Homo sapiens: one gene and its partner. The protein of the gene in region 2 interacts with the protein of the main gene of each other region in a pairwise test. Each region holds a gene or a part of one and is shown on either strand. Other genes may lie near its edges.

Region 1 (3,654 bases), on a different chromosome or scaffold from region 2:
AATTACCCCAAAACTTGATACCCGTAAAGCAATTACTCCCCACTCTTTCCCCTCAGCCCCTGGCGACCACCAGTCTACTTTCTGTCTCTGTGGATTTGCCTATTCTGGATATATCGTATAAATGGAATTATGCAATATGTGGTCTTTTGTGACTCACTGCTTTTACTTTCCATGTTTTCTAAAGTCCATGTTGCAGTATGTGTTAGTACTCATCCATTTTTATGGCTGAATAATATCCCATTCTATGGATATACCACATCTTATTTATGCATTTGTCATTTTATATACTTGGCTTGTTTCTCCATTTTGGCTACTGTGAACAGCGCTGCTCTGAACATCTGTGAGCCAGTGTTTGCTTGAATGCCTGAGTTCATTTCTCTTGGGTGGATACCTAGGGGTGGAATTACTCGGGGTGTGGTAGCTCCATCTTTACCTTTCTGTGGAGCTGAAGGTTTCCACAGCAGCTGCACTATCTATATCCCCACCAGCCAGGTGGGAGTGTGTTCTGTACTTTCCTCTTTTTTGCCATGTCTTCTTGTCCTCAGGGCAAACACTGAGCATGGATGGTGCCAGCTGAGGCCAATCAGCTCACCTGCAGTGGGGGAGCCCCATGATAGAGCTTACTGCCAGCAGCTTTGCCAGTCCTGGGTGTATGAGTGGTGCTTTTTGAAATCTTGTCCCGCCCCCTCCAGCTCATTTACTTTATTCACACAGTGAGTCCGTACTCCACATTCTGGAGAAAGCTTCCCTTGTCTCCCTGTGGGGGCCTGTGAGAACCCCATCCAGACTCAGGGAGCCCAGCTCCCTCTACTCTGGTGTCTGTGGGTTAGATTCATGTCCACCTGCTGTTGGGACGGTCAGTGCCCATGAGCAGGTGAGGCCTGTGGCTGCTTGCCTCCCCATGTGCCCATATCATTCCCCATCCTGTTCTTGGGAAGCTGCATGGTCAAGACCTGAGGGCAGAAGGGACAGAAAGAGAGTAACAAGCTACAACAGCAGCCAACCCCTCACCTGGAAGGAGTAGCCTCAGACTCAGATCCACAAGTGTTTGGGAAGGGGATGTTTGTAACTGAGTGCCCATTCTCTCTCACACCCTTCCACCTGCGTGGGAGGTGACAGGTCACTCTAGGTGCCCTGTGCACAGTCCAGGCCACGGGGCAAAGCATGCTGGTGTTCAGCACCACCCAGATGTCCTCGTACTCAGAGAAGTTCCTTACTTCCAAGCATGCCTCCTTGAGTCCCAGGCTCCAGCTGGCTGATAGGTGGAGAGACCAAGGCATGAAGTGGCAGAGCCCACAGTGGGGGGAGGTGATGGATTTTCTCTAAATTAGACCTGATTAGTGCCACTCTTGAGGGAGGGAGATCGAGGAAGGATCGGCGCCTTTGGGAGTCTGCATCTGGCTCCGGGAAGTCTCAGGAAAACCCAGACCCCGAGTGGCTTTAAGGTGCAGAGGGAGAGGCAGCCTCACCTTTCCTGTCTCACACAGGCCTGGAGGGGACAGGAGGGTTGTGCAGTTATCACGTGTGACAAGTGAGGCTGAGAAACCTCACATCACACCAGAGTCCCCTTGTCCTTACTGTCACCCTGGCTTATTAGCAAATGCCTGGCCTGGGACTGGTACTTGCTGAACCCTTGGCACTGGGCCTTTCTGCTCTCCAGCTCAGGCCAGCAGCCTCCCATACAGCAGAGCAGGAACCGGGCCTGGCTGCTTCAAAGGCCTTTCGTGACCTGCAGAACTTGTCCAACTCTGCATTTTTGTCTTTAACCAGTTTGGTATGTTTCATTTCCACTCAAAAACATTCATCCCCAGAGTGCTGGCCATCAATGCATTTCTGCCATTGTGGTCATGATGTCCAAGAAGGAAATAACCCCCCAGGGGCAACTGGCAGCAGCTTCCTTTGGAGAACTGCAGCCAGTCGCTCTGAAGTGTCCTTGGCTGAAAAGTCAACATGTAGAGTCTTGGTTAAATGCTTCGTGAGTCCTTTTAGTTCCCGGTCAAGTTATTTCAGGCCACCAGGTGGCCCAGGGCAACTGCCTGTTAGAAATCTGCAAAACAGACAGAAAAAGTGACATCAGGTCAAGGACGTCTCACCATGTTGGCAAGGATGGTCTCGATCTCTTGACCTCGTGATCCGCCCCCCCCGGACTCCCCAAGTGTTGGGATTACAGGCATGAGCCACCACACCCGGCCCTCTGAGACATTTAATAAATGGATATCGGCTGGGTGCGGTGACTCACGCCTATAATCCCAGCACTTGGGGAGGCCGAGACGGGTGGATCACCTGAAGTCAGGAGTTCAAGACCAGCCCCGTGAACATGGTGAAACCCCGGCTCTACTAAGAAAAAAATACAAAATTAGCCGGGCTTGGTGGTGAATGCCTATAATCCCAGCTACTCAGGAGGCTTAGGCAGGAGAATTGCTTGAACCCAGGAGGCGGAGGTTGCGGTGAGCTGAGATTGTGCCACTTCATTCCAGCCTGGGCAACAAGAGTGAAACCCTGTCTCTAAATAAATAAAAATAAACAAACAAACAAACAAATAAATAAAGGGATATCTGGCCAGGTACGGTGGCTCACGCCTGTAATCCCAGCGCTTTGGGAGGCCGAGGTGGGCAGATCACAAGGTCAGGAGTTCAAGACCAGCCTGGCCAGCATGGTGAAACCCCATCTCTACTAAAAATACAAAAAATTAGCCAGACATGGTGGCAGGCACCTGTAATCCCAGCTACTCAGGAGGCTGAGGCAGGAGAATTGCTTGAACCCAGCAGGCGGAGGTTGCAGTGAGCTGAGATGGCGCCACTGCACTGCAGCCTGGGTGACAGAGAGAGCCTCTGTCTCAAAAAACACCAAAATAAATAAAATAAAATAAGAGGATATCTGCCTTGCACAGAATAGGGAACACAGGACAAAAGGAGAAGAATCTGAGCTCCTGTGCCGAGTGAAGCAGTGATTTACGAGGGTGCCACAAGTGTGTCCATCTCACGCTCTGCATATGATGTTAGCCATCCGGGATTCAGAGTCTAAAGGCTGTGCTGGACAGATCCATCTTTGTTCTGGAAACAATGAGATCTAGGGAGGGGACAGGAGGATTGTGCACTTATCACGTGTGAGGCTGAGAAACCTCACATCACATCACAATGAGGAAAATATTTATTTATTTATTTATTTTTGAGACGGAGTCTCGCTCTGTCGCCCAGGCTGGAGGGCAGTGGCCCAATCCCAGCTTACTGCATCCTCCACCTCACAGGTTCAAGTGATTCTCCTGCCTTAGCCTCCTGAGTAGCTGGGACTACAGGCATGCATCACCATGCCCGGCAATTTTTTTTTTTTTTTTTTTGAGACAGAGTCTCGTTCTGTCGCCCAGGCTGGAGTGCAGTGGCGTGATCTCGGCTCACTGCAAGCTCCGCCTCCCGGGTTCACACCAGTCTCCTGCCGCAGCCTCCCGAGTAGCTGGGACTACAGGCGCCCGCCACCACGCCCAGCTAATTTTTTGTATTTTTAGTAGAGACGGGGTTTCACCGTGTTAGCCAGGATGGTATCGATCTCCTGACCTCGTGATCTGCCCACCTAGGCCTCCCAAAGTGCTGGGATTACAGGCGTGAGCCACCGCGCCCGGCTCCCCCCCCCCGGCCTTCACCCCTCCCTCCCTCTCTC
Region 2 (3,654 bases):
AATTCTAAGTACAGGACTGGGAACCAGGTAGTTCTGATTTCTGTTTCTGGCCTTGATTCCATCTGCAAATTTTGGCAAGTCATTTGACGTCTCGGTATCAGAATCATCATCTGTAAAAAGGGATTTGGAAGAATACTTATTATTTATACAATCAAAGCATTAATTATAGAACAAAGCATCAATTTTTAAATATGATTTTGAATTCCAACAGGAACTAAGGACTTGGATTTAGTCATAAAAAGATAAGTTATCTATATACCTCAGACACAGAAAATCTGCTCAAACAAGCAAATGCTTTAGAATTGATGCCCCATTTGGACTAGATTACACTTTTTGAAGTTCCTTAGGATTTTAAGTTTAAATTACTGAGTTTGAATAAGCCTTTATACCCTCAGGCCAGCCCCAGTGTTTCAAAGTTAGCATGGGGAAACTGAAATACAGGTTAATAGTGAAAACTGGGCTTCAACATTTTGCGAGGGACCAAGTTTTGCTCAGTCTGCCAAGGCTGGAGTACACTGGCATGATCATGGCTCACTCACTGCAGCCTCAAACTCCTGGGCTCAAGTGATCCTTCAGCCTCAGCCTCCTGAGTAGATAGGACTACAGACATGCACCACCAAGCCCGGGTAATTCTTGTTTTTTGAGATGGGGTCTTGCTATGTTGTCCAGGCTGGCCTTGAACTCCTGGCCTCAAGCGATCCTCCCACCTTGGCCTCCCAAAGACCTGGGATTACAGGCGTGAGCCACCACACTCAGCCCATCCATCATGTTTTCTTAAAATAGACCTTATTTTTTAGAATAGTTTTAGAATTACAGAAAAATCTGAGAGGATAGTATGGAGAGGTCCCATGTATCCCAGTTTCTCCACTACTAACATCTAACATTAGTGTGGCACATTTGTTACAATTAATGACCAATACTGGTAACTTATTAATAAAAGTCAATAAAGTCATCTAAATGCCCTTAGTTTTTAACCTAATGTCCCTTTTCTGTTCCAGGATACCACATTCCATTAAGGTGCCATGTCTCTCTATGCTATTGTTGGCTGTGGCAGTTTCTCACTCCTTGAGGAGTACTAATCAGGTATTCTGTAGGATGCCTTGCTAATGGAATTTGTCTGCTTTCTTTTTTTTAAAATGATTACGCTGGAATTATGGATTACTGGGAGATAGACCAGAGGTAAATTGCCATTTTCATCACTTCTTATCAAGGGTACATACTATCAATATGATTTATGGTTGTTGATGTTGATCTTGATCACCTGGCTAAGTCTCTATCAGGTTTCAACACTATAAAGTTGTCTTTTTTTTTTTTTTTTTTTTTGAGATGGAGTTTCGCTCTTGTTGCCCAGGCTGCAGTGCAATGGCGCGATCTCGGCTCACCACAACCTCCGCCTCCCAGGTTCAAGCAATTCTCCTGCCTCAGCCTCCCGAGTAGCTGGGATTACAGGCACGCACCACCACGCCCAGCTAATTTTGTATTTTTAGTAGAGACAGGGTCTCTCCATGTTGAGGCTGGTCTCAAACTCCTGACCTCAGGTGATCTGCCTGCCTCAGCCTCCCAAAGTGCTGGGATTACAGGCGTGAGCCACCGCACCTGGCCTAAAGTTGTGCTTTTACTTTCCATACTTTACCTTTTGTAAGAAGTCACTATGTGCAGACCATGCTTAAGGAGTGCAGACTTATATTCCACCTCCTAGAGGGAGGAGTAGCTACATAAATAATTTGGAGTTTTACTGCTTCTTGGCCTTTTGGCTAAGATGAAGTCTAATAATTTGGAATTTTTCTGCACAGATTTGCCTCATCTCCTCTATTTAATAATTTATAACAGCATGAATTCATGGATATTTATTTTATACTCTGGGTTATAATTTTTTGTCCCCAAATAGTTTTCAGTTTTGGCTGTTGGGAGCTCTTTAAGTTGACGTGTGCCCCTTTGGCATACCCCTGTCAAGTGCGTGTGTTTAGGTTTTTTTAAGTACTTTCCTATTTTCCAGCACTACAAAATGCTCCAGGTTCATCTTGTATATTTCCTGCCCCAGACCTAGAATCAGCCATTTTCCCAAGGAGGCATTAGAAACCAAGAGCTGGGCACTGAATGTGCTCATGCTCACTGCTTCTGGGTGTCATTTCTTTTAGCCCCTCTCAGCTAACACAGCAAAGTGTGTGTGTACAGTACCACATATATATACACACACATATCTACAAGCATTCTGTATGTAGCCATCTGAATCTATAGTAAGCTAAACAGGAATTCATACCGATGTCTCTAACTCTCTAACTTAAGTGCAAGTTGTAAATTGTTATCATTCACCAATGCTGTAGAACAGAGGAACCAATAGAAGATCCAACATTGAAAAATACCAAATCACCCTCTGTTCTTTTCTTCCACACTATGTGGTATAGCTGAGTAGAACTGTGTCTAACACTATTCTTAACCTTTCAACATAAATACTCCAACTCTGAGTCACTCCTGCATTGCCACCAATTCCTAACCAACTAAAGTGGATTTAGGGCTGAGAGCCGTGGCTCACACCTGCAATCTCAGCACTCTGTGAGGCCAACATGGGAGGACTGCTTGAGGCCAGGAGTTCAAGACCAGCCTGGGCAACACAGCAAGACCCTGTCTTTACAAAAAAATTTTTAAAAATTAGCCAGGCATCGTGGTGCATGCCTGTAGTCCCAGCTACTCAAAAGGCTGAGTGGGAGGATTGCTTTAGCTCAAGAGGTCAAGAATGCAGTCAGCCATAATCCATGGAGTGAGACATGGCTGCATGGGTGACAGAATGAAGACTGTCTCCCCCTAACCCCACCCCCTTCAAAAAATGGACTTAGGAGAGTGCACTTTTTTATTTATATGTCAGAAATAATGTTAAAAGTTAAAATTACAGCCGGGCACGGTGGCTCAAGCCTGTAATCCCAGCACTTTTGGAGGCCAAGGTGGGCGGATCATGAGGTCAGGAATTTGAGACCAGCCTGACCAACATGGTGAAACCCTGTCTCTACTAAAAGTACAAAAATTAGTTGAGCGTGGTGGCGCACACCTGTAACCCCAGCTACTCAGGAAGCTAAGGCAGGAGAATTGCTTGAACCTGGGAGGCGGAGGTTGCAGTGAGCCAAGATCGCGCTGCTGCACTCCAGCCTGGGCGACAAAGCGAGACTCCATCTCAAAAAAAAAAAAAAAAAAAAAGAATAGTTAAAATTACTTGCTTTCTTAAAAAAATACAACTTTGTTTTCTTACATTGTAACAAATTTCAAAGACTTGTCTGTTTTGAAATCATCAATCCACATTTTACCCACATTTTCAAGTAAGGAATAAAAAATGTAAAAGCAGTTTAAAGAAACATATTTTCGAAAATATTAGATATACCTTTGTTGTCAAAATATTTTAAATCTGGCTGTCTCATAGAACAGACACTGTAACAATGATCAGAGAAAATTCCATTGAATCCATCTGCAATTCTGCTTATTCCAGAGGAATCTGAACATAAAATGAAAAATATTTCAAGTACAGTAAACATACATATTTAATGAGAAACTTCCCGTTATCTAACTTATACAAATGTTCTTAATGTTAATTATAGTATCTGTAATGAAAATATTATACATTTTCAACTTTTAAAGCTTTTATATTTCAGATCCAATATTGACATA

The links.
Region 1: the proteins of ZNF639 (region 2) and ZNF837 interact in binary tests that used the Homo sapiens proteins (3 or more experiments, as listed by UniProt).

Annotation. Positions count from the first base shown.
Region 1 is NC_000019.10:58,370,924-58,374,577, reverse strand, and holds part of ZNF837 (zinc finger protein 837), read left to right. Parts: exon of another isoform or gene 1-2,036; intron 2,037-3,654. UniProt on the Homo sapiens protein: May be involved in transcriptional regulation.
Region 2 is NC_000003.12:179,329,445-179,333,098, reverse strand, and holds part of ZNF639 (zinc finger protein 639), read right to left. Parts: intron 3,482-3,654; coding exon 3,371-3,481; intron 111-3,370; coding exon 1-110. UniProt on the Homo sapiens protein: Binds DNA and may function as a transcriptional repressor.